Homo sapiens: one gene and its partner. The protein of the gene in region 1 interacts with the protein of each later gene in a pairwise test. Each region holds a gene or a part of one and is shown in the gene's direction. Other genes may lie near its edges.

Region 1 (3,653 bases):
TGTTTTATTCCCAGATTAAAGTTGATTGGGGTTGTTATGTTTTGTGTAGTTTTTGGAGGCATTTCCCTTTCTTAGAGTATCATGTGATTTATGGTGATAATTAGGCAGAAACTTGTCTTCCCTACAGATGCCAAGATTATAGAGGGACTTGCTCTCACCAGAGACCAGATGACAGCATCCGTAGATATTTTTAGAATGGACCTCATCATTTATTTGGTCTCCCCATTTCATTTTCTTTGTATCAGCAATTGATTTCAAACTTGTTTATTGGGCAGGGAGGGGAGAGAGGGCGTCTTCCCTTATTAATGAAAGTCACTGATGGGACAGAACAGCATCTTTGTATTTATTGTTAATTGGCATATTGCCTAGTACTTGCAGAGTAAACTACAATTCCATCAGCTGTAGCTTCATTTTCTTTTCAAAAGTTTTGCTTAATCTGATGTGTTTTCTTACAGCATTTTAAAATTTTATTTATTTATTTTGAGACCGGGTTATGAGACTAGTTTTTGTATTTTTGGTAGGGACGGGGTTTTGCCATGTTGCCCAGGGTGGTCTCCAACTCCTGGTCTCAAGGGACCGCCCCCCTCAGCCTCCCAAAGTGCTGAGACTACAGGCATGAGCCGCCATGCCTGGCCCCTTAATCCGATGTGTTTTTAAACTAGAAGAGCATCGACACATACACATAAATCTCACGGTTAACTAAATAACCGTATAACTAAAATGTCATACTTTAAACTATTTAAGAATGACATGAGCTTTCTTAAAACCCATGAAACTTGTACCCAAGCTAAGTATCATTGACTTTCCCAGCTCAGTAGCTGGGTTTCATCACTTAATATGCTCCCTCTACTCTTTCTGTCCTTGATTGAATCAGATAAGCATGTACAAACATTGAGCCACAGGAGAGCCATTAAAAATCTAAGACAGATGAGCTGCTGCTTTCCTTTTGATTATTTTTATTACCCCAGTTTTCATTGTAAATGGTGATTCTGGTGTTCCTCTGAGAAGGTTAATTGTATTTCTGTTCAACATTTATCTTCTATATTTTCAGTGTTTTACAATCTGTTTTCCTTCTGTCACAGAGGAAACCAAAGGCCTTTCTGTTCTCTGGAGTGGGAGTTTCTGTATTAAATTTGTCCTCTGCAAGAGTTGCCTCTATACCTGGGCCAAATCCTCTACCAATTCAGCCTATAAGCACCAAGGTGGTTTCCTGAGCAGGCCTCCCTGGGAGGGCATTGCCTGGGGGACCTCAGCGGAAGCTGTAGAACATAGCTTCACAGGTGACCCCAACCCCAATCTGCAGAAAGGGAAAGTGGTGATTCACACATCTCGTTTTTAATAATGGAGTTCTCTGAAGATTGGGGCCTTTTGATGAAGGAATGGATATTAAGCCTGGGGACTGTGGTTGGTTAGTGCTTTAGACTGTCCCACATGGGCCTCCTACTCCTGGCTTTGGGGTGATGGCCTGTTCTGCTCAAAATTGTGCTCTGTTAGGGGCTCATGGGTGTCCTCTGTCCTCTTTCCTGCTGTGTTGGCCCAGCCCACATTGGAGCAAGCCACACTCCCTGTCTCTGTACTTGGGGAATGAAGTGTGTCACCTTCCCATTATGCACTGGCTTCTGTGGCTGCATAATTAATACCCAAGGGAACTGGAGAGAGATCTGAATTAGGTAGTACTTTACAGCTTCTCCCTCGGCGCTTACAGTAAGTCAGGATGGGGACTTGGGGATGGGAGTCCCCTGATGACTGATCACATAGTGATGTTGGATGGTGGTTTATTAAGTGTTATTGTGAGGGGAAAAAACCAAATCCTCTTCCAGAGGACTGTGCCTGTGAAACGCTATCTAATCATTCATACTTTGCAGGGCAAGGTAGAGTAGTTAGAATAGCACTGACTTTAGCAAGCTACGGTCTTCACAGATGCTGAGATCTAGTATTTACTTCAGCTTTTACTCCCTCTAGAATCAACAAGCCATTATTTTATAGTCCAAGGTAATATTATCTAGTAGCTTTACAAAGCAAAGAATGCCCCAAAAAACCATCAGCCAGGGAAACTAAAACCTAGGGATAGACAGGAAGAAGAAAGAGGCTTCTTTTTATACTTTATTGTCCCTACCTCCAGTAAAACAACCTAAATTCTTCAATTTGGAGCTTTAACAAGGATAAGTAAATATGACCATGGGCATGTAACATTGTAAATACTAAGTCCTGCTGTGTTTGCAAACATTGAGAGTGAAAGGTAAGATTGCCAGCAAGTGCAGAGTCACAGAAGAGATTGAAGTTACAGTACACTCATGAGAATTCCTGATGACCCTACGGTACAACCTCTAAAGGTGGGAGAAGCAGATGTATATAATGTGATTTTGTGTGTGAGTTTTTTGATGCTTTTTTCATTACTTATTTACCTTGTCTGGAGAGAAAAGCACGAGTTCATGTTGTTTCACTACCACTTTTCTATCCATTTCTTGGCCTAGAGCCGTTTCTTTACTACCATAACTGCCAACACTATCTCCATAAACAAAGAATCTTATGTCTGGAGGTCTGTCATGTCACGTCCTTTTGCTATTAAGACAGCTCTATGAATATACTTTTTTTTTTTTTTTTAATCCCTTAACTTTTCTGGGCCCAGTGGTCACATGACATCTGATAAGACTTGTATAAATTCAGATGCTCTAAGAGCACCTTTTTTGTGCCTTTCCATTGAAGACAAAATAATAATTGGAGGCAGAATAATAATAATGTTGTTGATTGTTAATGGGGTGTTTTATGGGGGATTTCTTGTCCATATATGTGTTATGTAATTTTTTTTCTCCAAATTTGTAATACAAAAATCAAATTCCTAAGCCAGGTGCATTGGCGTGCCTGTAGTCCTAGCTACTCAGGAGGCTGAGACGGAAGGATCTCTTGAGCCCAGGAGTTCAAGTCCAGCCTGGGCAACATAGCAAGACCCCATTTCTTAAATTCTTTTTTTTTTTTTTTTTTTTTTGAGACGGAGTCTCGCTGTCGCTCAGGCTGGAGTGCAGTGGTGCGATCTTGGCTCACTGCAAGCTCTGCCTCTCAGGTTCACGCCATTCTCCTGCCTCAGCCTCCCGAGTAGCTGGGACTACAGGTGCCCGCCACCGCGCCCGGCTAATTTTTTGTATTTTTAGTAGAGACGGGGTTTCACCATGTTAGCCAGGATGGTCTCGATCTCCTGACCTCGTGATCTGCCCTCCTCAGCCTTCGAAAGTGCTGGGATTACAGGCGTGAGCCACTGCGCCCGGCCCATTTCTTAAATTCTTAAGATGGCCCGCTTAGTAATTACTTACTCTTTTTATGGTGGGGAATAGGGGAGTCAAGATTACCCACACCCAGCACTGCAGACTTATTAAGGCCTTTATAGAAAGTGGCCATTTCATCTCCACTGGTGTTGGGGTATTCGTGGAAAAGGGTGGTAAGCAATTCAGTTAGTCCACATAGCCAGTAGGGAAGAACCAGAAAAGTATAACTCATCTACTTAGGATGAGCGGCTCTCCTTGTTTTAGCATGGAAAGTCCCATGTCCTAGGAAATCCCTCAGTCCGGAAGTCTAGAACAGAATCTTATCTGCACCTTGAACATCTAACTAAAAAGGACCCACCAAAACACCCCTAATATGGCTTTCTTTATCTCCCA
Region 2 (3,653 bases), on another chromosome or scaffold:
TAGGTGCTCTCGCTCCCTCCATAGCAGTAAACTCTATGTGATGACCACTAATTAATAACCTGTATTCCCCTGGTGATCCTGGGAACGAAAGTGATTTCATAGTGAGGACTTTTTTTTTTTAATTAAATTTAGGCTTGAGGGATGGTGTTTGTTCTTTGTTCATGTAAGACAGTGTCTTGCTTTGTCACCCGGGCTGGAGTACATGATTGAGGCTAACTGCAGTCTCGACATCCTGGGCTCAAGCAATTCTCCCACCTCAGCCTCCCAAGTACCTGGGGCTACAGGCACATGCCACCACACCCAGCTAATTTTTTAAATTTTTGTAGAGATGGGGTCTTAACTATGTTGCCTGGGAAATCTGGCTTTTTAATAAAGAGTCTTAGTCATGAATAGAATATTTCCTTTCAATCCATTATTTAAATGAATTTTAAAGGTGCCTTTTTTCTCCTCCTTTTTTTTTTTAGTTTAATACAATTTTTTAGTAAAATGAAGAAATGGATGGACATGTCAAATCTACCACAAGAATTTCGTGAACGTATAGAAAGGCTAGAGAGAAATTTTGAGGTGTCTACTGTAATATTCAAAAAATATGAGCCAATTTTTTTAGATATATTTCAAAATCCATATGAAGAACCACCAAAGTTACCACGAAGCCGGAAGCAGAGGTGAGCCCTTAATCCTTATATAATTGACATAAAGATTATGATACAAACTAAGAGAATATACTTTTTTGAAAGTCTGTTTTTTATGAAAAGTATTCCTGCAAAGAACTTAATTATTTTCTTTTTAAATCCATGTACAATTATCCATATTTGGAAATTCAGGATAATACTTTTACTTATTTTTCTTTCTGTTGTTGTTTTTTTTTTTTTTTTTTTTTTTTTGAGGAGTCTCATTCTGTTGCCCAGGCTGGAGTGCAGTGTCCTGATCTCGGCTCACTGCAACCTCTGTCTCCCAGGTTCAAGCAATTCTCCTACCTTAGCCTCCTGAGTAGCTGGGATCACAGGTGTGCACCACCCCGTCTGGCTCATTTTTTGTATTTTTAGTAGAGACCAGGTCTCACCGTGTTGGCCAAGGTGGTCTCGAACTCCTAACCTCAGGTGATCTACCCACCTCGGCCTCCCAGAGTGCTGGGATTACAGGCATGAGCCACCACACCCAGCCCTATGTTCTGATTATTTTATGCAGGTTGGAAAGGCTTACTTAAGTCCATTTCATAAATAATAGATTACTTTTCTTCATGAATGGAATTTCATGTGTAATTTGATCTATTTGATATTTACATTTACTATTTCAGTTTACATGATATTTAGCGAGCTAGTCAGACAAAAAGTAATTTTTTTCCCTTTTTAGGAGGATTCCTTGCAGTGTTAAGGATCTGTTTAATTTCTGTTGGACACTTTTTGTTTATACTAAGGGTAAGATGACACTTTCAGTGGTCTTACATTTCTACTCTGGGAACTTGGTGCTATTTGACATGAGAGGTTTCTGGTTTTTGTGTCTTTTTTTTTTTTTTTTCCCTTATAAAGGTAATTTTCGGATGATTGGGGATGACTTAGTAAACTCTTATCATTTACTTCTATGCTGCTTGGATCTGATTTTTGCCAATGCGATTATGTGCCCAAATAGACAAGACTTGCTAAATCCATCATTTAAAGGTAAGACCTTTTATTTATTTTTGAAAACTGATTATCAGTTTTTGGAAAAAGATTTTTAAAAGTTGACTATTTTTTTTTCCCTCTGCCCTTCCTACACTGTCAAACTAGGTTTACCATCTGATTTTCATACTGCTGACTTTACGGCTTCTGAAGAGCCACCCTGCATCATTGCTGTACTGTGTGAACTGCATGATGGACTTCTCGTAGAAGCAAAAGGAATAAAGGAGCACTACTTTAAGCCATATATTTCAAAACTCTTTGACAGGAAGGTACTGTACTTATAATTAGATGACTGAGATGTTTACAGATCACCAGTAATGTGAAAAGAAAAAAATGTTTTAAGCAAGTTCTCAGCATTATAGAACTTAGGGTCAGGATTCCCAGGCTTTAGCCTCTACTGTGATTCAGAATTTCCTTATGATCTTGTGTGATGTGAGAAACAGAGCTGTTGAAAAATGTGACCAACTATATGTACTGTTGGGTAAATGTACTGTCAGAGGCAACCGTAGGAGGTACTGATAAAGAATTGTAAAGAATAGAACATCAGAGTAGGGCTGACAAATAATTAGGAAAAACAGGAGGTCAGAATAAGCTGACTAATTTACTGCCACAATTTGAATAACTGCTGACTGTTGACTAAAAGTAGGATGATGTATAACAACCACAGTTTTAATTCCATGTAAATCGAGCAGAAAATCCATGATAGTTTTGTAGCCACTTGTAGGCTATCTGTGTGCATTCTGGACATTGTCTCCTTGGTAATTAACTTAGCTATTTCTACATTTATGAATTGGCTTGTTCCTTTGGGTTTCAATTTCTTATTTCCCCAACGTCGAGCCATTAAATGTAGTTAAGCCTCAAGATTTCTCTTTGGTAAAAGGAGGGGTTTGGATTATGGATCCCACTTTTCAAATATTATGAGATTTTTCTTTAAGCATAAATTCTTCCCTTACTGGTTTCTTCTTCTTTTATACAAATTTTTGTATTCAGTCTTGTGTTCCTCAGATATCTATATTATGGCCCATTGTCTGTATGCTAAACATCTCTAGCAAAGTAAACTTTTTTTAAAGGATCCCAGGGACTGGGCGCGGTGGCTCACGCCTGTAATCCCAACACTTTGGGAGGCCAAGGCAGGTGGATTGCTTGAGCCCAAGAGTTCCAGACGAACCTGAGCAACATGGCAAAACCTTGTCTCTACAAACAATACAAAAATTAGTTGGGCATGGTGGTGCACAACTGTAGTCCCAGCTACTTGGCACGCTGAGGCTGCAGTGAGCCATGATTGTACCACTGCACTGCAGCCCTGGTGACAGAACAAAACCCTGTCTCAAAAAAAAAAAAAAGTTAAAAAAAAAAGTTATTTGCATGCTAAATAGTTTATCCTAGTCTGAAAGAAATATTTAATAATTCTGTTTTGTGTGTGTGTTATAACAATATGGAAATTTAGATAAATTTCACGTTTGTGTGTGTATTAATATGCTTAATTATATGGTGTCCCAAAATAATTTTTTGTTCACAGATATTAAAAGGAGAATGCCTCCTGGACCTTTCAAGTTTTACTGATAATAGGTAAATATCTAGTACTAATGGTGCCTGGCTTATCACAAGCTGTCATATTTGTTGATTTGTTGAAATTTGTTAAGCATAACAGTATATCAAAGTAAGACCTCCAAATTCAAGTTCTCTCTGCTTTAGTGGCATTGAATGTTTATTATCACTAAGACTTGTTGGCTTTAAATACATTTATTTTAAGAAATCAAGGCCAGGCACGGTGGCCCACACCTGTAAACCCATCACTTTGGAAGGCCAAGGCAGGCAGATTGCTTGAGCTCAGAAGGTTGGAGACCAGCCTGGGCAACATGGTGAAACCCTGTCTCTACAAAAAATACAAAAATCAGCCAGACGTAGTGGTGTGAGCCTGTGGTCCCAGCTACTTGGGAGGTTGAGGTTGGAGGATCGTTTGAATCTGGGAGGTTGTGGTTGCAGTGAGCCGTG

What was found. Proteins that work in one complex are often made in the same cells at the same time.
Region 2: the proteins of FOXO3 (region 1) and RBL1 interact in binary tests that used the Homo sapiens proteins (3 or more experiments, as listed by UniProt).

The regions. Positions count from the first base shown.
Region 1 is NC_000006.12:108,675,906-108,679,558, forward strand, and holds part of FOXO3 (forkhead box protein O3), read left to right. Parts: intron 1-3,653. UniProt on the Homo sapiens protein: Transcriptional activator that recognizes and binds to the DNA sequence 5'-[AG]TAAA[TC]A-3' and regulates different processes, such as apoptosis and autophagy.
Region 2 is NC_000020.11:37,064,998-37,068,650, reverse strand, and holds part of RBL1 (retinoblastoma-like protein 1), read left to right. Parts: intron 1-464; coding exon 465-665; intron 666-1,353; coding exon 1,354-1,418; intron 1,419-1,529; coding exon 1,530-1,658; intron 1,659-1,766; coding exon 1,767-1,927; intron 1,928-3,177; coding exon 3,178-3,227; intron 3,228-3,653. UniProt on the Homo sapiens protein: Key regulator of entry into cell division. Directly involved in heterochromatin formation by maintaining overall chromatin structure and, in particular, that of constitutive heterochromatin by stabilizing histone methylation.